Linked DNA regions of Homo sapiens: all the other regions are linked to region 3. Evidence: fine-mapped expression QTL. A gene starts in region 3. Each other region holds a variant in brackets. All regions are shown on one strand. Distances are between the middles of the regions. Region 1 has its middle 10 kb from the start of CALB2. Region 2 has its middle 22 kb from the start of CMTR2. Region 3 holds the start of CMTR2 (cap methyltransferase 2).

Evidence for each region.
Region 1: its variant is fine-mapped to the expression of CMTR2 in subcutaneous fat (GTEx, PIP above 0.99).
Region 2: its variant is fine-mapped to the expression of CMTR2 in whole blood (INTERVAL, PIP above 0.99).

What each region holds. Positions count from the first base shown.
Region 1 is chr16:71,344,388-71,352,576 of GRCh38, reverse strand. No RefSeq gene overlaps it. Among named protein-coding and RNA genes, the nearest start is that of CALB2, 10 kb to the left of the region's middle. The variant G/A (reference allele first, on the strand shown) is at 3,304.
Region 2 is chr16:71,263,774-71,271,962 of GRCh38, reverse strand. No RefSeq gene overlaps it. Among named protein-coding and RNA genes, the nearest start is that of CMTR2, 22 kb to the left of the region's middle. The variant G/A (reference allele first, on the strand shown) is at 3,300.
Region 3 is chr16:71,285,450-71,293,638 of GRCh38, reverse strand. It overlaps CMTR2 (cap methyltransferase 2), which reads left to right and starts at 4,237. Exons shown (of 3, transcript NM_018348.6): 1 at 4,237-4,503; 2 at 4,702-4,761; 3 at 7,700-8,189. The coding sequence starts at 7,719. It overlaps LOC102723786 (a long non-coding RNA gene), which reads right to left and starts at 4,839. Exons shown (of 4, transcript XR_933707.3): 1 at 4,684-4,839. RefSeq lists silencers at 3,965-4,034, 4,115-4,484.

The sequences.
Region 1 (8,189 bases), 59 kb before region 3:
GACATCTATGGGCATGGTGAAAGTAACTGACACCTCTAGTGTTGGGTGCTCAACACAGAAAATTCAAACAAGCTGCGGAACATGTTTGCTTTAACATTGGGTGAAAAAAAAACATTCGGACAAACGAATTCAAATATAAAAGGGAGAGTCTGGGGGAAGGGTGTCATCTAAAACAGGAGTTGGCAAACTTTTTTTTTGTAATGGGCTAAATAGGAATTTTTTTTGAGGGGGGCTGCTTCGTGGGCCGTAGGTTCTCTGTCTCAACTACTCAACCCTGGTATTATAGTGCAAAAGCAGCTATAGATAATATGTAAACAGAGCAATATGACTCTGTTCCAATAATACTTCTTTTAGTAGTAGTAGTAATAATAATAATAATAAGAAGAAGAAGAAGAAGAACTTGGTGGACCTAATTTGGCCTGTGGGACATAGTTTACTGGCCCTCATCTAGTAAATGAATTCTAGGTTCTCTCTAATCCTAATGAAACCTGTGTAGAAGGATTGTTGTAATGATTCCATAAAATAATCTATGCAAATTACCTAGCACCGTGATTGGCACAGGGTCGATGGTGTTGGCTGTTTTTGTTCTCTTTTTTGTCGAGTGGGCTCTCGGAATAACTGGGTTCCAGATCCACCAATGTGCTTGGCTAATCTAGAAGAGTCCCTTCATCTTCTCTGAGCTGAGCTGGAAGTTGATCATATCACTCCATATAGTGAGATGGGATTTCTAAGGAAAGGAGGTGGAGGACGAAGAGAAAGGTGCAGGCAAGGAGGACACAAGGAAATGTAGCGTGCATGAGTGCAAATCCACAGGGCGTCCGTGTGAGGCCGGCTTGGCTCTGCCTGGGGGCCTGGCAGGGAGCCCTGGGCTTGATTTGCAAACAAATTTGCTCTATTTCCTGCCAGAACAGGACTTCCAGGTGGCCAGGAATTTGGACTCCTTTACTAAGGATGGGAAAAATGTCCCTAGAGGGACAGTGCCCCACTTCCAGGATTCCCCAGAATGCAGCAGGAATGTGAGAATGAGATGTTCAAAGATAAGGGCTGCATTTCATTCACTCATGAATTCATTACAAATTTTATTCATTCATGCTGTGTAAAAAATATTGATTAGCCAGCTACTTTGTGCCAGGCACTGTACTAGCAAAACAGAAATGATTCCTCCTTTCAGGAGTTTAAAGTCCAGTGAGGGAGACAGACATTGATCAAACCACACAATCACACATATAAGTGAAAACAGAGTGAATATCAGGGAGCGACCGTATCTAGCATGAGTAGGAAGCCATCCTGAGAGTGAACTAACCAGGAGGAGGGAGGAGGTGAGCATTCCTGGATTTAAACCCCATGCACCAAGGCTCCGTGCTGGCAGAGCTGTAAGAAAGCCAGAGGGATGGGAGATCAGTGGGACGAGTGGGTGCATGGTGGAGGTGACCCTGGAGAGGTTGGCAGGGCCAGACGCTAGAGCACTGGGAGCTATCAAAGGGTTTTCTGCCAGCAACAAACATAACCAGGATTATGGTCTCCCTCTGGCTCCTGTGTAGGGGGTGACTAGCGAGGAGTCTAAGTGGACACAGGGAAACCTATCAGGTGACTCCCGAGACTGTCTGGGAAACACGGCCGTACCTGGGCCTCCAGAGGGGCAGTGGTCATGGAGCAAAGTGATCAGGAACTTTGTAGGCAGAAAATAGGATTTGGCCATGAGTTGGATATGGACAGTGAGGGAGAGGGCGATTCCCAGTTGGTATTGGCACCTGGGAGAAAAGCAGACACTGACTGAGATGGGCGATGCTGGCAGAGGACTAGATTTGAGAAGGATACACCCTGCATTTGTTGGATGTGTTGAGTTTGAGTTGTCTTTGAATCAATCTACTGTGGACAAATGTTTGTATCCCTTCAAAATTCAGATGTTGAAAGCCTAACCCCTGATACGATGGTATTCAGAGTGGGGTCTTTGGGGCATGATTAGATTATGAGGGTGGAGCCCTCATGAATAGGCTTAATGCCCTTATAAAAAGAGGAAAAGGCAGGGCGTGGTGGCTCACGCCTGTAATCCCAGCACTTTGGGAGGCCGAGGTGGGCGGATCACAAGATCAGGAGTTCAAGACCAGCCTGGCCAACATGGTGAAATCCCATCTCTACTAAAAATACAAAAATTAGCTGGGCTTGTTGGCGCACGCCTGTAGTCCCAGCTACTCAGGAGGCTGAGGCAGGTGAATCGCTTGAAGCTGGGAGGCGGAGGTTGCAGTGAGCTGAGATCATGCCACTGCCCTCAAACCTGGCGACAGAGCTAGATCCCGTCTCAAAAAAAAAAAAAAAAAAAAAGGAAGAGACACAGAATCTCTTTCTGTGCCCTCTGCCATATGAAGATACATGAAGATATATGAAGATACATCTGCAAACTAGGAAGTGGATATTCACCAGACACTGGATCTGCTGGCATCTTGAAATTGGACTTCCCAGCCTCCAAAACTGGGGGAAATAAGTTTGTGTTGTTTGAGCTACCCAGTCTATGGTATATTTGTTATAGAAGTCTGAGCTGACTACAACATCATCTAAGGGAATGCATAGACCAGGCAGGGGGATTTATGGAGCCAGAGTTTGGAGGAGAGGTCTGGGCTAGAGAGGTAAATTTGAGAACCCCTGGGTGTTGAAACTGCACCTGGCCTAGCCTTACACACTTGGCTGGTTTTACCTCGGGGGTCCTCAGGTGCTATCTCCAAGCCCATTTCCCACTGCTCCCATGCCCAGTAGCTACTCAGGGCAGAGGCAATGGCTCCAAGGTTGAAGGTGTCCGTAGCTTTGCTCTTCAAGTTTCAGATCCATGAGTCTCACTAAAAGAGAAAGTAGTTCCTTCTAAGATGGACATGTTGGCTAGAACCATAAATGGGCAAGTTTAAGATATTTCTTCACCCCATCTGCCCTTCCCTTGAGGAAGATCAGATCAATTACAGTAAAACAAAGGAACGATATTTTCTTTGCACGTCTAACGGAGTGAATCTGTGACCCTACTGTGCCCAGTCTTATTTGTCTCCCCAGCTAGAATGGAGGTAGGTAGGACCTTGTCTACCTTGTCTATTTTGCTCATCACTTTTCTTCTTAGCTTGCAGCACCATTCATGGCCCAAATGCACTCAAGGGATAATTGTTTTGTTTTGTTTTTGTTTGTTTTTTGTTTTGTTTTGTTTTTTTGAGATGGAGTCTTGCGTTGTCGCCAGGCTGGAGTGCAGTGGTGCGATCTTGGCTCACTGCAACCTCTGCCTCCTGGGTTCAAGTGATCCTCCTGCCTCAGCCTCCCAAGTAGCTG[G/A]GACTACAGGTTTGTGCCACCACGTCCAGCTAATTTTTTGTACTTTTAGTAGGGACGGGGTTTCACCATGTTGGCCAGGATGGTCTTGATCTCTTGACCTTGTGATCCGCCCGCCTTGGCCTCTCAAAGTGCTGGGATTACAGGCATGAGCCACCGTGCCCAGCCGAGATAATTGTTGAATGAATGAAAGACTGAATGAAGATCACAGGAGTGGAAAAGGATGTTTCTGTGTATAGAGTCGAGACCCTTCTGGAAGCTCTAGAAATGACCCCTTGCACGCACCGGGACAGCTCAGCTCCTGTTAAGCAAGTGCCTGGCAGCAAGCCCACTTGGGCTGCCGTCCGGAGGGCAGCTGCTTGCCCTGCTGGGGGCCTCGGCACCGTCTGGTCAGGAGGAGCTGCCTGCCTCATAGCTGCTCCCTGAGCTGCCTTCCCGAGCACGTCAGTGGGAATCCCCTGACAGGCAGGCCACAGGAGGGGGCAAGTGGTGAGCAGGCCGAGCTCGGAAGAAGCCAAACTGGGGTGCTTCCTGGAGTCTGCAGATTGGCCGTCATTGCCGATGGTCTGATACGAGAGCCAGAAGCCTAGGCCCGGCTCAGCCCACCAGGTAGAAGATCAAGAGGGAAGAGAGGAAGACAGAGGTGGAGGGTAGGAAGGAGAAAGGCATAGTGATTTTCGAGGGACTGCGGAGCCAGTTAGTGACACCTGGGTCTCCTGGGTCTCCCACTCACAGGAGATGCCAATGATACCTGCCAAGATCCCCTCTGACAATCGTGCACCATTCCCCGGCTGCTGTGGGTGTTGGGTGCCAAGGCTCAGACCTGGACCATTCTCCGGAGAATTGTCACCTTGCACAGAGGTGCTCCTCCCACCCCAACCATGGGACAATCCATAGCCAATTACTGATGTATAAGAGGTATAGAGGCTGAGCGCCTTGCCTTGAGGTGGGGAAACCCTGCAGTACCCTTCATGCCCCAGAGCTTCCCATGGGATCCGGCTGGGGCCAGACTTCAGCAGAACCTGCACCTCTACTTCTTCCTTGCCCAGCCTTCTCCTATGTCTCTTTACATACTTTAGAGCCCTTCTATGATAACACAACTGCACAAGACTTTTCCAACAGACCCAAGACATTCTCTCAGGCTAAAATTTGTCTCTCACCACTTGTTGAAGCCCTAACCCTTCATTTAGAACCCAAGTTTCTGAAGCTTCCAGAAACATGCATTTTCACATACAGGCAGGTGCCCCTACATCTCTTCACATCAGTGGCATGCCAACAAAGCATTCTCACACCACCCTTTGTCCACTGTATGAACTTGGACTAACAATTTGACTTCTCGGAGTTTCTATTTCTGCATCCAAAGACCTGGAATCCTAATACAGTCTTGCAGAATGGCTGTCAGACAGGGAGAGGCGGGGGTGCCCGGTGACAAAGAACCTGGCTTTAGAGTCACACACAGACCCGCCCAGCTCTGTGACCTTGGGTGCTGTGAGCTTCTCTGGCCTCCGTTTTCTCATCCATGAAATGAAGTTAATAATAGCACTGAAGCCGTAGGTGCCTGAACGCACTGGTTGCGTGCAAAGCACTTCACACGGAGCCTGGCCCACTTAGTGAATACGAGCCAGAGAGCTTAGCTCTCGCCTGGCACAGACTAAGTACTCAGTAAGAAGTGAGTATTGTATTTTTATTAATGGGAATGATATGTGTAAAGTCAGGTGGTAATAATGACAACAAATAGTCTTTGGATTTGTGAGAGGTGCCTGAAGAGTGTCCCAGAAGTGTAGCAGATGGACCTGATGAGGCCTGATGCATGGGATGTGGGCTGGGGAGTGGCAGGCAGATGGGGCCCACCTGGGCTCACTTCTCAGTCAACTGGTGTGAACCCTACGGCCACTGTTCTGCGGCAGCCCACCGCCGGTGGCTTACCTGCACGCCAGCCATTTGTCACCCTGTCATCACCTCCACACTTGAAAGCAGATCCCCAGGGATTGTGGACAAAGCACACAGAACAAGGAGCCACTTTTTTTCCCTCTAGGCCTGGAGAAGGGAAGGCAAGGATGGCACCCAGCAAAGAAAGACCGACGGCTTGTCCTTAGGGAGAGGGCATCTCAACAAGATGGGAAAGGGGTCAGGGCTCACAGGCAGATCCAGCCACCTCGTGTGTGTGTGTGTGTGTGTGTGTGTGTATGTGTGTGTGTGGTCTGCAAGCTAAGAATGGCTTTTGCATTTGTAAATGGCTGGAAAAAATCAAAAGAGGAATAATACTTTGTGAACATTATATGAAATCCAAATTGCAGTGTCCATAAATAAAGTTGTTTTGGAACACAGCTGCCCTCATCCCTTTGCTTATTGTTTCTGGTCACTTTTGTGCTACAATGGCAGGCTGAGTGGTTGCAACAAACTCTATGGCTTGCAAAGCTGAAAGCATTTACTATCTGGCCATTTTCAGATGAAGTTTGCTGACTCCTGACTAAGAGCATTGGGCTGACCAAGATTGGGTGGAAAGGAAAGTCACATCCCTCCTGCCTACGGTCCCCTCTCTCCCCACCCCTGCCAAAAATTCCATACCTTTTCAGTAAGCTTTCTCTTCGAATCATTGGTATTTTCTTAACATCTGGCTGATGCAGAGGGAAGTATCTGATTAATAAATTCGCACTAAGGTGTTGGTGACTTCATGTATTGCACCCTCCTTGTCCCAGGAGGTTGGACTATAGGAATAAATCTTTCAGTGGTGGCATTTGAGGAACTGTGGAATGTATCTGATTGTACGTGTGTGCATGCACATGTGCAACACACACACACACAGAGGGAGAGTGATTTGTAATTATAAAGGGTGGAAGCTTGGATGCTTCAGGGCCCGGGACCAGAGGAAATAGAGAAGTAGATTCTGTGGGGATGAACCATCTGGGAATGGGTAGTATGCAAGCCACATTATTGACTCCCAGAACCTCTAAGGGCAGGTTAGAAAAGGTGCCTTCCTTCTTGATGTGAACTCTAAGCTTCTATGGGCTGGGCATGGGAGCTCGTGTCCGTAATCTCAGCTCTTTGGAAGGCCGAGGCAAGAGCATCCCTTGAGGGCAGGAGTTAAAGACCAGCCTAGGCAACATAGCAAGACTCCAACTTTACACAAAAATTTTTTTAAATGAACTAGGCGTGATGGTGCACACCCATAGTCGCAGTCACTCAGGAGGCTAAGGCAGAGGATCGCTTGAGCCCAGGGGTTCGAGGCTGCAGTGAGCTATGATTGCACCACTGCACTCCAACCTGGGCAACAGAATGAGACCCTGTCTCTAAAAAAAAAGAATCAAAAATCGAAAAAAAGCAAATAGAGTGATGAGTACACAAAAAGGCAAACTTTACCACTATGCAATATTTCCATTAACACAATTTCACTTGTATCCCTAAATCCATAAAAATGCACAATTAAAAAAATAACAAATAAATCAACCTCTAGTACAAACCTCCCTTGATAGCACTGGGAGGTCTGGGAATCTGTGAACAAGTCATGACAATGGGGGTACTGCTCCCCCAAGGAGGTGGCCAGGAGGCCAGCCCCCCTTGGCTTGGCCCAGAGGACAGGTGACAGCTGGCTTTGTGCCCTTGCTGGCCTTGATGCTCACTGTGCGGGTCTTTGGTGCCCTGGGTGCCAGCTGCTTGCCTTTCCCCAGCGGTGCACTTTTGTCCTCTTCTCTCTGCTGCCTGCATCTGAAGGTCAGTCACAGCCCGGGATTGGGGCCAGGTCAGCCTGGCTACCGCAGTTCAGCATCACATAGACTGCGGCATCAGCCATTCTTCCTACAGGGCTTAATTGGCTGGACAGCTGCAGTAGGCTGTCACTCCAGCCTGCCACCTCTAGCCTCTGTTCTCTAAGTTGTGCTCTCAACCAAAACCAGGACGATTGTTCCAAAATGCCAGTCTCACTGCAGAACTCCTCGTTTAGAATCTTTGTTGGCTCTCCATCCCTGAGGGTGTACTCTCCTCCTCCCGGCCTCATCTCCCCCTACCACCCCTCTCAGTCTTCACTCCACCTCCGCGGAACTCCTCGAGGCTGCCGGAATGTGCCCATTGTTTCCCACCGCCTAGCTTTTGTGTTGCTGTGACCTGTGTTGGAAAAATCTCTTTCCCCAACTTGGCAACTCCCACCCCTCCTTCAAGATTCCCCAGAGCCTCCTTCTCTGACCTCCCCGATAGGATGACTGACGAGGGCTCTGTTAGAAGTTCCTGCTAGTTACATGCTAGATACCCCAATGACCCCTGTGACCCCAAACTCAGTACACAACCAGCTTCCAGACACATCCAGCTTCCTCTTAGTGAGTGCTTTCTATGGGGTTGGTGCTGGGCTGAGTACTTGTCTGGGTGATCTCATTTCATTCCCAGCTGCAAAGTGGGCCTCAGATACTTCCCACCCCTAAGGCTGTGGCAAGGAGTAAACAAGGGAATGTATGTTGGCCCAAGACCTTGTCCCTGTAAAAGCGTCATAAATTGGAGGAGTGATTAACAGCTGAAGCCAGCCCATCAGAGTTCTGCCCGGATCCCCTGCAATCCCGGTTACACGTTCTGGGCCTCCCCACTGAGCTTCCGTGGCTTTTGCTCCTCCCAGCTCACACCTGCTGCCTCTTCAGGGCCTGCCTGAGTCACTTCACCTGCACGGGACCCAGAAGGTCTCCCACAGGAGCAGGCTGGGGCAGGACTTTGCCTGATATCACACCTTTGGTGGCCTCTTTTCTTTCACTGTCCTGCCTCCCTTGCTTTCTCCTTGGCGTCTCCTGGTCGCACTTGCTTGGTAAGTCGTTTATACCCAAATCCTCATCTCAAGCTCTGCTTCTGGGGATCTGATCTAAGGCAGGGTTGGCAAACTTTTTTGTTAAAGGGCCGGATGATATTCTACA
Region 2 (8,189 bases), 22 kb after region 3:
CCTGTTGCTTAAACCTTGTGACCTTCTTACCTTCCAGCCCACCCTCTCCCTTATCAGTTGATTGGACCAAGTTTGGTCAGCTCTCTGGAATGTAAGACCAAAAGATGATTTCAGCTGATCAGAGTCTTTTGCAATTGGAGAACTTAGAGAGAGGCAGTGAGGAGTGAGTTCTGAAGCTGTAAGTTTAGGATGTGAGAAATCCTGGATAGATCATAACATACAAATTCATTGTGTGTGTGTGTAATTTTTTTTTCATGGCTGGCTTTACTCTATCCTTAAAATTTCATCTCAAATATCATCTTCTCAGAAAGACTTTCACAGATCACCTAAGCCCTAGCCCCATTCACCTTCCCCAACCATCACCATTCTGTAACACAGAATCTGGTTTTGTTTTTCTTAGTTTGAGTCGTTTATTTGTGTACTTATTATTTCTTCTATTCCACTCTCTCTGCTTTTTATTTCATTTTCTTGCCTTTTTGCTCTAGCTAGGACTTCCACTATGATGTTGAGTAGGAGTGCTGTGAGGCAGTACTTCCTTGCCTTAGTCCTAATCTTAGGAAGAAATGGTCTTTTATAATTATGGTATTAGATGTAGGGTTTTTCAGTAAAAGTCCTTCATCCTATTAAGAAAGTTTCCTTCTATTCCTATTTTGTTGAGATTAAAAGAAAACACATGAATGGATGTTGAATTTTGTCAAATGCCTTTTCTGTAACTGTAGAGGTGACCATGTGGTTTTTCTTCTTTAGACTGTTAAGATGGTGAATTATATTGGCTGATTAAAAAACAACCTTTTTTTTGGTAGAGATGAGGGTCTCACTATGTTGTCCAGGCTGGTCTTGAACTCCTGGGCTCAAACCATCCTCCCTGTTGGCTTCCCAAAGCACTGGGATTACAAGCGTGAGGCCACTGCACCCAGCTGTATTGGCTAATTTTTGAATGTTGAATCTGCTTTGTATTCCTGGGATAAACTCCACTTGGCTTATCTCTTTCATATATTTCTGGATTTGATTTGATAAATTTCTTGGAGAATTTTGATATCTATGTTCATAATAAATATTGGTCTGCAGTTTTCTTTTCTTGTAATGTCTGGTTTTGGCATCAGAGTAATGCTGGCCTCATAAAATGCTTTGGGAAGTGTTCTCTTTTCTTCTATTTTCTGGGAAGTGTTCTCTTTTCTTCTATTTTTCTGGAAAAAATTCTGTAGAATTGATTTTTCTTTCTTAAGTGTTTGGTATAATTCTCTAGTGAAACCATCTGGGACTGGAATTTCTGTTTGTTAGAAGGTTTTTAACTACAAATTTCATTTCTTTAATCGATATACAACTGTCCTGGTTGACTTGTTAAGTGAGTTTTGGTAGTTGATATCATTCAGGGAATTGCTCCATATCATGCAAGTTTTTACATTTATGGGCATTGAGTCTTTCATACTATTCTTTTATCTTATTAATATCTGTGGCATCTGTAGTGACATCCTCTTTTTAACTCCTGAAATTCGTAATTTCAGTTTTCTCCTTCTCCTTTTTCTCCTTCCTTCCTTCCTTTTTTTCCTTCCTTCCTTCCTCCCTCCCTCCCTTTCTTTCCTTTCTTTCCGTCCCTCCCTCCCTCCCTCTTTCTTTCCTTCCTTCCTTCCTTTCTCTCTCTCTGTCTCTTTCTTTTTCCTCTTTCTTTCTCCCCCTCCCTCCCTTCCTCCTCCTCCTCTTCCTCCTCCTCCTCCTTCTCCATCTGGCTAGGGTTTTTATCAACTTTATTGATCTCTTTAAAAACACAGGTTTTGGTTTTATTTATTTTTGTGTACTTTGTCCCAATTTTATTGATTTCTGCTGTATTTTAAAATCTCCTTTCTGCTTGTTTTGGATTTTATTTGCTCTTCTTTGTCTAGTTTCTTAGGTCGAAGCTTAGGTGAGTGATTTGAGATCTTTCTTCTTTTTAAATATAAGCACTGTATGCAATGAATTTTCTTCTAAGCATGGTTTTAGCGGCATCTCATGTGTTTAGTTTTCATTTTCAAAATATTTAAAGTGGGTTTCTTGTAGACAGCATACGGTTCCTTTTTAATCTAATCTGAAAATCTTCCTTTCAATTGATGTTTTAACTGCTTGCATTTAATGTGAATACTGATATTGGATTAAAATCTGTCTTGCTACCTGTTTTCTATAAATTCTTTATATTTCATTTTTTTCTGCCTTTTTTGGGTTAAGTGAGCAGTTTTTATTATTTCATCTATTTATCTATAGTATTGACTTACTACCTATAGCTCTTAAAAAGTTTTTAGTAGTTACAATATAACACATTAATCAAAGTCTACCCTCAAGTAATATTATACTCCTATGTGTGCTATGAGGACCTTATACTCATGTTTCCAATCAGTCTGTCTCATTCTTTGTGCTATTTTTGTCTCCTATGTTACTTCTATGTATGCTACAAGGCACAATATAATTCCACTTTTTTTGCTTAAATTGTTCCTTTTCAGAGCAATTAAAACTGATAAAAGCAAAATTGTTATTTTTATTTATGCCATGTCTAGCATTATTTGTTTCTTCATCTAAATGTATGTATCTGGTATCAAATTTCTCTTTTCTGAAGAATATTCTTTAAAATTTTTATGGTTTAGTACTGATGACAGTTAATTTAATTAGTTTTTTTTTCTAAGAAAGTCTTTTTATCCTTTATTTTTGAAAGATATTTTCACCAGGTAGGGAATTCTGTATTGACACTATTTTTTCTTTTAGTCCTTTGAAAATGTTACTCTATTGTCTTCCGACTTGCATGCTTTCTAATAAGATGGGCTGTTTATTTCTCTGTGTTAATGTGTCTTTTTTACCCCTGCTGGTTTCCTTCAAGACTTTGTTTTGTGTTTTCAGAACCTGAATATGATATGTCTATCTCTGGCTTGGTATTTATCTTGGTTGTTGTTTTGGATCTGTAGTTCAATGTATGTCATTAATGTTGGAAATTCTCAGGCATTATCCCTTCTTATATTTATGCTACCTCATTTCTGTCTCTTTTTTCCTTCTGGAATTCTAGCTATACATCTGTTAGATCATTTTATATTGTCCTATAGTTTCTGGATGCTTGGTGCTGTTTTTATTTTTTACTCTTTATTCTCTTTCAGGTTGGATGATTTCAAGTTCACCAACTCTCCCCTTAGCACTGTCAAGTCTACTGATGAGCCTGTCAGTGACAGTCTTGATGTCACTTGGTCTTGATCTTTTACTGCGTTTTTCACTTTTAACAGCGTCATTAGATTTTTTTCTTACAGTTCTCATTATCTCTACTGAAATTACCCATCTGACAATGC[G/A]TGTTGTCCAGTTCTTTCACTGGACACTTCAATATATTTGTCATAGCTATTTTAAATTCCTTATCTAATAGTTCCGATATCTGTGTCATATATGAGTCTGGTTCCGTTGATTGCTTTGTCTCTTGGCATTGTGGGGCTTTTTATTTTCGTTTTTGTTTTATATACCACGTACTTTATTTACTTTTTTATTGAACACTGGACAGCACTGATTGAGGTAAATAGTTTTTATGCCTGCAAATGGGGTACATTTTTTCCTTTTCTAGATTTTTTTTTTTTGAGATGGAGTTTCACTCTTGTTGCCCAGGCTGGAGTGAAATGGCACGATCTTGGCTCACTGCAACCGTTGCCTCCTAGGTTCAAGCGATTCTTCTGCCTCAGCCTCCCTAGTAGCTGGGATTACAGGTGCCCACGACCACGCCCAGCTAATTTTTTATATATTTTTTAGTAGAGACAGGGTTTCACTATGTTGGCCAGGCTGGTCTTGAACTCCTGACCTCAGGCTATCCACCCACCTTGGCCTCCCAAAGTGCTAGGATTACAGGCGTGAGCCACCGCGCCTGGCCTCTTTTTCTAGATTTTTAGTGTGGAATGTGAATCAACCTAGACAGGCGTTGAGGTGGCTTTGGGGGTTTGTTGTTCATAGGGCTATCCTCAGTGTACCAGAGACTTCAAATTCTTCTAATAAAATGTTGTATTAGGAGCAGGGCTGGTTTACCCACTGAATAGACTTTTCTCAATGTTGGGCCTACCCTTAGCCTTACACTTTCTCCTTATGCAGTGACCCCAGAGAGTTTCTCTCCATGTCCTTGCTTCTCTCTGGGCCCTCTCAGCAGTCGTCTGCTGTTGCTGTGTGATGCTTCTTGCTCTGGTGGTGGCAGGTGAAGGAAGTGTTCCCTGTCGTTCTAACTAAGCCTCAGTGTTGAGTGGATACTGTGTCTCTGGGTCTCAGGAGTGTGACCTTTTTCATGCTTCTGTTTCTCCCCAGTGATAGTTCTGAGCCCAGCATATACTCCTGCTCCTCCCTGAGGTGTGGAGGATTTTTTTTTTTTTAACAATTTCCTTCCCAAAGCTGCAGTTGGTATTCAGGAGTGCTCTAAGGGCAATAGTGCTTGTTGCTCTTATTCCCCACTCTAGGTGAAGTTGTTGGGTTTTCTTGTATTGCTTTTGTTTTAACAGGGGAGATAGGGAAGAAGGATCTGGGCAGGTATCCACGCCCTTCCTGCAACAACTGCTTCTCCCCTCCCCTAAGCATGTCTTCTCAGCACTGCTGCCATCATTGTTTATGAGCACCCACTAGGGCCTGTAGAGAGAAGCCTGTGAGTGGTGTAAACTCCCTTTGTATCTGAGGCCATATTCTGTCACCTGCCAATACTCAGATTCCACCAGTTTCTTCACAGTTCTTCTGGGTGTTCAACTGCCCCACGTAAACAAATGCTTGCATCTGACTTTTCCTGTAGGCACTTCTCTTTACTTTGATTTTGGGCTAGTTGGTGCTTCTTCAAATAAACTAGTTGTTTCTTCAACTCTTTGATGGATCCAAGAAAAGTTGTTAACTTGAAGTTCGTTCAACTTATTTTTTTTATTAATTTTAAGGGTGGGAGAGGTATTCTTTCTAGTTCTTTTCCAGCTCCCCAGCTCCAGAGTTGAAGCCAGAAACCTGATCCTCCTTTTTACCCCTAATATCTTCTATTCATAGGGTGACTGTTCGTCCTGGTTTACACCAGTATAATTATTAACAGCACTCACTTTTCACTCAGTTTCTCTGTTTGCATGATAACTTGTATGATCACCTTTTCTTTTGGTAGTTTGTCCTTGAAAAATATTACATAATGAGGTTTCACCAGCAGCATATGTTAGGTTTGGACAGATTTAGTTATCCTGGATAAAAATCAAATATTGAAGATCATTTTGGTGATATTCAAAAGGACATGGAGAGAACAGGTGTAAGTGAAAGACATATCAGCCAAATCTAATGTGTAGACCTTGTTTGGATCCTATTTCAATCCAAAAGGATTTTTTTTTAGAGAATCAGGAGCATTTGAACTTGGGCTAGGGATTACAAGGTATTAAAGTAATGTTATTATTTTGTTAGATATTGCAATGATATTATAGTTATGTTTTTAAAATCTTATTTTTTGTTAGAGATACGTTCTAATGGATTTGGAGGTTTAATGGTGTGATAGCAGAGGTTTCTTTTTGTTTGTTTTTTTGAGACGGAGTTTCACTTTTGTTGCCCAGACTGGAGTGCAATGGCGCGATCTTGGCTCACTGCAAGCTCTGCCTCCTGGCTTCAGGCAATTCTCCTGCCTCAGCCTCCCGAGTAGCTGGGATTACAGGCATGCGCCACCACGCCTGGCTAATTTTGTATTTTTAATAGAGACGGGGTTTCTTCATTTTGGTCAGGCTGGTCTCAAAGTACCGACCTCAGGTGATCCACCCCCCTCAGCCTCCCAAAGTTTTGGGATTACAGGCGTGAGTCACCATGTCCAGCTAGAGGTTTATTTTAAAATACTCAAACACAAAAAGAAAAGTGAAGGGAGAGAGAAAGGTGGTAGGTAAAGACAAGAACAGCAAAATTTTGATAATCACTGAAGCTAGGTGATAGGTATTTGGGGATTCATTATTTTATTATCTTAATTGTTTTCTGTTTGACAATTTCCATAATAAAACTTTTTGTTTTGAGACAAAGTCTCACTCTATCGCCCTGGCTGGAGTGCAGTGGCACGATCACAGCTCACTGCAGCATTGAACTCCTGGGCTCATGCGATCCTCCTGCTTTAGCCTCCTGAGTAGCTAGGACTACAGATGTTCACTGCCATACCTGGCTAATTTTTTACATTTCGTAGTTATGGGATCTTGATATGTTGACCAGGCTGGTCTTGAACTTCTGGCCTCAAGTGATCCTCCTCCCTTGGCCTCCCAAGAAAATAAAAACTTTTAAAGAGAGACAAGGATATGATCAGGAACCTATATCTTAAAAAAAAAAATAAGATGATTATTCAACCATTTAAACTAGTAAGGTGATTTTTTTCTTGTGGCAGAGGCTAGGCAGCTGTGCCTCCAAAATTCATTTGAAAACTTTTTGGTTCAGTGATTATTCAGCAAACCAGATGATCTATGATATGGCAGGTCAAGGAGAACAGAAAGAGGTGAAATGCCATAGTTTCAATGCAGTTCAGTCCTGCAGACCCACTCTGGACCAGGATGGGGGAAGAGCCTTGCAGGTGTCTTCTTAAACCTGACTCAATTTACTGTGTATTCTGTGCAAACTTCAGAGGGAGAACACTGTGCTTTTCTTCCCTTTTATCCAGGTTCTCATTGTCGTTTTATTATCTCCTGCTCATAATATGTAGAGACAAATGCCTTGGGAAGGGTAGTAACAAGGCTGTAAATCCAGTGGAGGAAAGGACTGTTCACTGTTTTGAACAGTGAACAATATGCCTACTGCCATTACTGGCAGATAAAATACATTAAATAAATATTGTATGAAGGAATGAATGAACAAATCCATATTTGCTGCTTGCCACATAGAAGATAAATAAATACTGTCTACATTGAATTGAATTGTGAGTGACAAAATTGAAAAAATAACTTTAGAGTTTATGTTGGACCATTTAATGTCGAACCTCTTCAAAGTCTTTTGGAGATGTCCAGATGGACAAAATCAGCCAATATGATGTTCATGACCAGGCAAGGGAAGCCAAAATGAAGGGCAGCTTTATTTAAAATGAATAGAACAAGATATAGTTACATTCATGCCACTGTTCTTTTAAAATATATCCATAGAAATGATTAGTCCTTTAAAAGTCTTCATGCCACAGTTCTGCAAAGAAATCAGGAGACTTTGTAAATATCCTGTCCGCAAAAAGTTAGAATGACAAGCACCCTTAAATAAACAGGAATAATTAATCATAGGTGTGGTTGTTTTGATGAGCATGCAAGAGTGACAAGTTAATAAATAAGCAGTTCATACAGGGAAAGTGGCTAAGGAGGTGCTGTGGTTTAATTTACATCTTTGGAAGGTAGCAAAGATTTAATAATCTCCCTGCCTCATACATCAAACGAATACCCCTGAGGCAGAAAAGCAAAACGTTTTTAACTGTTAATCTGAGAAGCAATAAAATCCTGCCTCAGGTCACAAATAAATTGAGTTTCTAGTGGTCTCGATGGATCCCTAGTATGTGTGATTTATTCAGATTCTAAAGCTACTCAGGACCACTTAGAGCCTTGGGGGAGTGCCATGGGAGTTACCAATCTAATCAGAAGTTCTAGACTAAGGGCAATGACTGATCTTAGCTTACATCTACCCAATAATTTATTTTACCTTCTTGGTCAACTACAGATAGATTATGAACTACAAACATATGAATTTGAGATTCAGTTCTAAATGATTGTTTTTAGTTGGGGTTGTAACTATCTTTGTGCTTATATAGTACGTGTGTTTAAAAGATCAGAAACTGTTTTGAACTTTCTACTTTGTAAGTGTAGGATTTTCACTGACTAGAGAAACCAGGATGCCAAAAGGGAAATAACTCTCCGTGGCATCATGAGCCATTTGTGAAATCTAAATAATTTTCAGGTTTCCAAAGCAGCTTCATTTCTTAAGCCCCTAAGCTATGGGGTGTATTTCTTACTGGAAAGCAGTCCCAATCTAGACTCCCAAGAAAGGGTTCTTGGATCTTTTGCAATAAAGAGTTCTGGGGGAGTCCATAGAGTAAAGTGAAAGCAAGTTTATTAGGGAAGTAAGCAAAAGAATGGCTGCTCCATAAAAAGCGGGTTGGCATTTTTATGTTTATTTCTTGATCATATGCTAAATAAGGGGTGGATTATTCATGAGTTTTCCAAGAAAGGGGCGGGGATTCCCAGAACTGAGGATTCTTCCCATTTTAG
Region 3 (8,189 bases):
GTCCCCAGGGCTAGTGCTTTAACAATTTTGGGTAGTGATTCCACTACTAAATTAAGTATCATAATGATTGCTAATAATGAATAATAATAAAGTAGGTACTTGAAAATCCACAGGGCTGAGTGTTACCTCAGTTCAGTTTTCTCACCTGAACTTTAGCCACCCATTGATTTCCAGCTCCCCTATGGATATTTCCATTTGACTACGCCATGACTGTTCCTAACTCTGTAAGAACCAAGCTTAGTTATTTCTTTCCCTCTTGACCATTTCTTATTGCAGCAGATCTGGTGCCTCAGTCTGCCTTCCATGGTCTTCTGTACTCTGGTTCCTCAATACCTGCTAAAGACTGAATCCCACCACCCTCCCAAATTCCCTAATCCCCAGTGTGATGGTATTTGGAAATGGGGCCTTTGGGAGGTAATTAGGTTTAGGTGAAGCCAGGGGGATGTGGTCCTCATGATGGGATTAGTGCCCTTCTTGAAGAAGAGACAAGAGAGCTTGCTTTCTCTCCACCATGTGAGAATACAGCAAGAAGCTGGCCATCTGCAAGCCAGTAAGAGAGCCTCAATCTCGAACTTCTAATCTCCCACTTGAGAAAACAAATTTCTGATGTTTAAGCCACACTCTCTGGTATTTGTTGTAACAGCCTGATATGGTTTGGTTCCGTGTCCCCACCCAAATCTCATTTTGAATTATAATTGACAGAGCAGGAGTATCGCCATCTTGGACAAGGACTGTCATTTAAAAATTCACCTTAATCAAAAACCACCTAAATCCAAAGGGCATCAGCCTAATGGCTAAGGTCAGCATGAACATAAACCACAAATAACATCTCTGACCAGAAACATTCCAAACTCCTCCCTGATCAGAAACATGCTAGCCCCAAGATAAGCCCCCTCTGGCCAGGAAGATGCTAGCCTCAGATAACTCCCCTCTGGCCAGGAAGATGTCAGGCCAAGATAATAGAAACATTCCAACCCCACCATAAACTTCTCCCCCCACCCCCAAAGAAACATCCAAGCTTGTGATAAACCTGCTCACCCTAAAACCAATTTATACTCTTAGTCGGGAAGAGAAAGTGCTCCTGACCAAAATCAGCCAGAAGCCCCCTCAGGTTTTTTCTCTAAAATAAACCTGTCTTTGACTGTTAAGCCTTGTTTCATATTTCTTTCCTCTTTCTTTAACTCTTAAAGTAATAATCCCCACATGTTGTGGGAGAGAGCTGGTGGCAGGTAATTTAATTATGGGGGGCAGGTTTTTCCCATGCTGTTCTCATGATAGTAAATAAGTCTCATGAGATCTGATGGTTTTATAAAGGGGAGTTCCCTTGCACAAGTTCTCTTGACTACCGCCATGTAAGACGTGCCTTTGCTTCTCCTTTGCCTTCTGCCACGATTGTGAGGCCTCCCCAGGCATGTGGAACTGTGAGTCCATTAAACCTCTTTCCTTTATAAATTACCCAGTCTCAGGTATGTCTGTATTAGCAGCATGAGAACAGACTAATACACAGCCCAAGCTAAGACACTATATATAGCACCTAAGCCACCTATTTAGCATTTAAACGTATTAACTTTCCATCCCTTTTCTGCAAATCTACATTACCTGTCCTCTTGCCTGTTTTTTCACTCATTATTTTCCTGAGCTAGGCTGGCACTCCCCTTCCCCACGTAACTTCACCCTTAAAAGAACAGAAATTAAAGTTTCTTTTTCCCTAGTCTTTTCCTATATTTTTCCTACTAACTTCATTCTTTAGACTCCTACAACACTTAACTTGTACCACACAATATAGCACTTACTTGTATAAATGCTATTCACTTTGCAATAAATCCCTGTACTTTATTATTATTTTGAGACAGGGTCTCACTCTGTTGTACTGGCTAGAGTGCAGTGGTGTGATCTCAGCTCACTGCATCCTCAACCTCCTGGGCTCAGGTGATCCACCTCAGCCTCCCTTGTAGCTGAGATTACAGGTGCACACCACCATGCCAGGTTAATTTTTTGTTTTTCAGTAGAGACGGGGTTTCACTATGTTGCCTAGGCTGGTCTCAAACTCCTGGACTCAAGCAGTCTGCCCGCCTTGGCCTCCCAGAATGCTGGGATTACAGGCATAAGCCACCACACCCAGCCCGTGCTTTCTTTTTTTTTTTTTTTTTTTTTTTTTGTGAGACGGAGTCTCGCTCTGTCACCCAGGCTGGAGTGCAGTGGTGCAATCTCGGTTCACTGCAAGTTCCACCTCCTGGGTTCATGCCATCCTCCTGCCTCAGCCTCCCTAGAGCTGGGACTACAGGCTCTAAATATTTTTAGTTTTAATATAGTTCAATTTATACATTTTTCCTTTATGATTAGTATTTTGTGTCCTGTTATAAACTTTTTGACTACTTCAAGGTTGCAAAGATGTTCTCTTATGTTTTCTTATTAACTTTTAAAATACAGACTGACAATCCAAATGAAATGTATTTTTGTTTATGATGTAAGGAGGGTCCAAATACAATTTTTTTTGCATGGAGAGACACAAATGACCTACCACTATTTTGTGAAAATATAATCTTTTCTCCATTGGTCCATGTTCTGGAAGACTTGTAAAAAATGAATTTTACATTTATGTCTATATATCTATTTACATAAATGGTTAAAAACTCTACACATAATTCTAATATTCTTCTATTTTCATGCAATACTGTTGACACATACAGCCTATTAATGGCTGCATATAATGCATATATGTGCATTATATAGATGTACTGTAATAATTTAATTAATTCTCTTAAAGTAGACATTTAGAGTATTTCCATTTGGCTATGTTATTGAGATGCTGAAATGAACATTTTGTCCAAAGTGAGTGCCAGCTGTTTAATTATCTCCTAAGGATAAACTGCGAGGAGGAGGAATTGCTGGGTTAAAATGCATGTCCTCTTTTTTTCCCGAGACGGAGTCTCGCACTGTCGCCCGGGCTGGTGTGCAGTGGTGAGATCTCGGCTCGCTCCAACCTCCGCCTCCCGGGTTCAAGCGATTCTCCTGCCTCAGCCTCCCAAGTAGCTAGGATTACAGGCGCCCGCCACCACGCCTGGCTAATTTTTTGCATTATTAGTAGAGACGGGGTTTCACTATGTTGGTCAGGCTGGTCTCGGACTCTTGACCTCGTGATCCGCTCGCCTCGGCCTCTCAAAATGCTGGGATTACAGGCGTGAGCCACTGCGCCCAGCCAAAGTGCATGTCTCTTTTCAACGTTTGCCTTCTGGGCTAGGCGGCTTGGCTCATGCCTGTAATCCCAGCACTTTGGGTGGCCGAGACCAACGGATCGCTTGAGTCCAGGAGTTCCAGACCAGCCTAAGATAGGGAGATGCCATCTCTCTAGGAGGATCGCGTGAGCCCGGGGAAGTTGAGGCTGCAGTGAGCCGAGATCGAGCCACTGCACACCAGCCTGGGTGAGGGTAAGACCTTGTTTCAGTAAACAAACAAATAAATAAGTTTGCCTTCCGTAAGGTTTCTAATAACGTTTTTCTTCCATCCACAGATGTAAACCTGTTTCCCCATAGTCACACCAACAGTGGTCATTACCAAGGTTTTACATCTTTGCTAAACCGAGTAAAAAGAAAACTTGCTGTTTTCATTTCCATTCTTGTCTAATAATAGTTTAAACAGTTTTGTATATCCTTAGTGGCTATTTGTTTGACTTTTTTGTTTTTTGGGAGGCCTGTTCTAATATTTGCTCATTTTCCTTCTGGGGTTGTTGGCCTTTTTCTTATTGGCTTATTAAGCAACATAATTAATATATATTATGTCATGTATATATAAACAATCTTATCTTGCAGTTCCCTAGTTTGGCTTTTAACCTATCGTCTTTTGAGCTGCAGTTTCAACCCAGTCTGTACAGGAAGTAACAACTGTCCAGAAGAGTCTGAAAGCCCTTGGGGCCAGCAGCCAGTGAGCGGAACCAGCACGTCCTGACAGACAGGTTTGCCCCGTCCCTTCCCTCCCTCCCCCTCCCCCTCCCCTTCGCCTCCCTGTCCCTCTCCCTTTCACCCCTCTTCGGGACGGAGCCAAAGAATGCTCCGCCTGCGCGCGCCGCTTCCGTTGCCATAGTGGCCGGGGGCGGGAGGCTGGCGCCTCCCAGCTTCTGTACTCCGCGAAGCAAAACCTAGGGAGCTGAGGCCTAGGCGAGGCGAGAGTCGCCGGCGTGCGTAACGTTGGCGCACGTGACTCCGGCCCGGCCTACAGGGCGCGTGCGCAGTGGGACTTGAGTGCCTCCTGGTCCCTGTCTGCCGGCATTCGCGGCTGCGGGGCCCGGAGGTGGGACTGGCTTCCCGGTGCCGCGAGGGCGGGTCCGGACAGCCTTCCCCCCAGTCCGGCGCACCATCTCCCTGCCTTGTGGCTGGAGGCGCCGCGGACCCAAAGGGAGGGACCATCCCGGGAAGCAGCCCCGAGAGCGGAAGTGCAGAATGGCTTCCTCGAGAGAGTAAAGTGCAGCCTCTCCAGACACTGGGGCCCCAGTGGGCGTGGGCGAAGGTAATCCAGGCCTGGGTACGATTCCGGGCCCTCCTTCGACTTCCCAGCGGGTGAGCCAGGGGCTGGGACTGAGTTTCCTCCAGGTCAGGGACCGGGCCTCTGGAGTGGGGTTTGGGACTTACTTCACTAGATGAAATGAGATATGGGGTGCCCGGCCCAAAGTCAGCCCTGGATACTCACTGGCCGTTGTTTTCACAGTTGCTGGTAGGAGGAGTTGGCGGAAGCACTTGGAACTCCTTTATAAGTGTCAGCTGTGAGGTAAAAACTGTTGATGAGATCTTGTGGGTTTTGTTTTGGGTTCACTAATTTGGGCGGGGGCTACATAACTGCCTACTTGAGTTTGCAATATGAGAATGGTAATAGCGACCCACTTAGCAGAATTATGATGTCACAAAGCTCAAAGGACTGTTTAATGAAAGGCTCAGAGGATCATATACTGGAAAATTTTTCCACACACGCTGTAAGCCACATGCTTTTTTTTTTTTTTTTAAGTCATGCATTTAAGTGCTGGAGTGAAGTTGAGGTGCACTATTAATGACTCATATTCAGAACCTGAAGAGAGAGATCCCTTTTGTGCTAAGTATGATATCCACTCATTTATTCAGTAATACTGAGTGCTTACTGTGTACCAGGCAATGTCCAACTTCTTGGAATGGTCTATGTGTAAACAAAACAAAGATCTCTGTCCTGTGGAGCTTACATTCTAGTTTGGGGAAGACAAATAATAAACAGTAAACAAAAAGAAGGAAGTTATAGGTTGGAAGTACATGAGTACCATAGGAAAAAAATACAGCGAGGTAAGAGGCATGGGGAATGCAAGATGCAATCTTAGGTAGGCTTCACTGAGAAAATGACATTTGAGCAAATATTGGAAGGAGGTGAAGGAGTTAGCTGTGCTGACAGCTGGGGAAAGAGCATTCCAGGCAGAGGGACCACCAATGCAGAAAGACTTTTGTCTTGGAATGTGCTTGGTGTCTTCAGTGAACAGCAGAAAGGCCTGTTTGGCTGGAGTAGTGAGTAAGGGAGTAGTAATAAAAATTAGGTGGCAACACAGCAAAAGTATAGTCAGAACGGTGGAGTGTCTGAATCACTTAAGTTGTCCTCATGTGAAGGTAATTTCCTATTAGCTTAGGTAAGGTTTCACAGCTTAACTACAGCCGTTAATTAGTATGTGAAGTTAATGATTAAAATTAGACTTTTTCCGAAATAGAGTATAGATGAGATCTAAACATGGCTGTAGTTTCCAGCAAGCACAATGCGAATTAAGACAGAGGAGCTTGTTGAAAAAAACTTTTATATGCCCTTATTTTAAGATTTTAGTGAATGTGGAAACACCTCAGTTTTGTCTTCCTTTAGAAATTTGTCTAAATATAGCTCTACCAGTAAAAAAGAAACAAACAAAAAACAGGCATAGTGGCTGACACCTGTAATCCCAGCACCTTGGAAGGCCGAGTTGGAGGGATTGCTTGAGCCCAGGATTTTGAGACCAGCCTGGGCAACAGAGCAAGACCCCATCTCCACAATTTTTTTTTTAACTAACTGGGTGTGGTGGTGCACGTCTGTAGTCCCAACTCCTTTGGAGGCTGAGGTGGGAGGATCCTTTGAGCCTGGGAAGAGGTCAAGGCTGCAGGGAGCTATGACCTGTGCCACTGCACTCCAGCCTGGGTAGCAGAGTGAGACCCTGTCTCAAAAAAAAACTTTTTTTTAATATAAATATACCGTGGCAAACAAATGACTAAGAAGACACCTGTTACTTCAAGGAAATTACAAACTGGTAGAGTAGACTTGCAAATAATTTAAACAAAATAAGAAAGAATGAAAAAAGTGTGCTAAAAGAACAGTACAAAGTAAATGCTAAAAGAAACATCATCTGAATATTATTGTATGTATTACAGCAGTAGTTCCCTTTGTTTCTCATTTTGTCCTTGAACATCTGCTTTTCTGGAGTGATGATTTGATTGCCAATTTTTTCATATTTAACAAATTCAGATTTTTTTGAAAATCATTTGTAGAATGCATTGTGTATGCTAAATAAGTGCAGAATTTGTGAACTAAAGCATCTATTGATTAACATTGCACTAACAGGTACCATGTAATATTCATTGCTCTCCCTGCTGGAATTTGTAACTTTTCCAAAACTATGCCATTAAGCCATACTTCTCATATCCTTTTTCCTCTTCAGAAGGAAGAGGTTTCTTTGTTTCTGGTTTCTTTGGCAGTGTTGACTGCCAGAGTATGTAGAGTGACTATTTGTAATTTGTATATTCAATATGTATATTTCTTCAGTATAAAATTCTGCTATCCAAGTGTTAAGTTTTAGTGGCTAGAAGAAATAATGATATGTTATGGTGGAAGTGTGGAGCTGTCTGAACCATATGAAAGCCAGGAATCTATAGTTTGAGACATACCGGGTAAACAGTTGGTCACTTTCAGCATCAAGCAGAAAAAGGCTAACCACTCAAGTACAGCACAGTTTACAAGCAGTATGATGATGAACGTTAGTTGATGACCTGTATAGGTGATTGGTACCACCAAAGTGCCTGTCTTAGAGAATGAAATCTGGACAGAGGATGTATTCAACAATCCTACTAGTGAGGTAAGTGGCTTGTGGCAGGATCAGTACTGGGTTCAGGTACATGATCCTCTCCCTGAAGGAGGTAAAGTATGACGGGAACTAAAAAAAAAAAAAACGAAAAGTCACATGTTAGAGCTTGAACAAAGGTCATGTCCAGGGATGAATCTCTAAGGATGGATTTGTTTGAGGTCATGTAGGTGTTGTCACAGTCATTGGTAGGGAAGAACTTTGGGGAAGAGTTAGATGGGTTACTATGATAATCAGAGCTGTCATTCACTGATGATTATGCTTTGTTATATGTTTTTTATATGCTAGTATGTTTTATCTTCTTCTTAAAAAATGATAGGCTTTTTTTTTTAATGAGAAGAAACCAAATCCAAGAGATGGAATTTGCCCAAGGGTGCTTATTAAGCCATAATTAGCAGAGCTGGAATTTGAACCCAGGTCTTGGATATCAAAGCCTTTTTCATTATTCCAGATTACTTGGTTAAATAACAGAGTATGCTGACTTTAGCCTTCCCATTTTATGGAGTTTGTCATGAGTGTGATCGTATTTGCTGCTCATGAGATTTCGCTCACTAATAAATTTGATTCATTTAATTATGTGTTTTCTCTTCCTAGATTTTAATTTGATTTGAAAATGAGTAAGTGCAGAAAGACACCAGTTCAGCAGCTAGCAAGTCCCGCGTCATTCAGCCCAGATATTCTTGCTGACATTTTTGAACTCTTTGCCAAGAACTTTTCTTATGGCAAGCCACTTAATAATGAGTGGCAGTTACCAGATCCCAGTGAGATTTTCACCTGTGACCACACTGAACTTAATGCATTTCTTGATTTGAAGAACTCCCTAAATGAAGTAAAAAACCTACTGAGTGATAAGAAACTGGATGAGTGGCATGAGCACACTGCTTTCACTAATAAAGCGGGGAAAATCATTTCTCATGTTAGAAAATCTGTGAATGCTGAACTTTGTACTCAAGCATGGTGTAAGTTCCATGAGATTTTGTGCAGCTTTCCACTTATTCCACAGGAAGCTTTTCAGAATGGAAAACTGAATTCTCTACACCTTTGTGAAGCTCCAGGAGCTTTTATAGCTAGTCTCAACCACTAC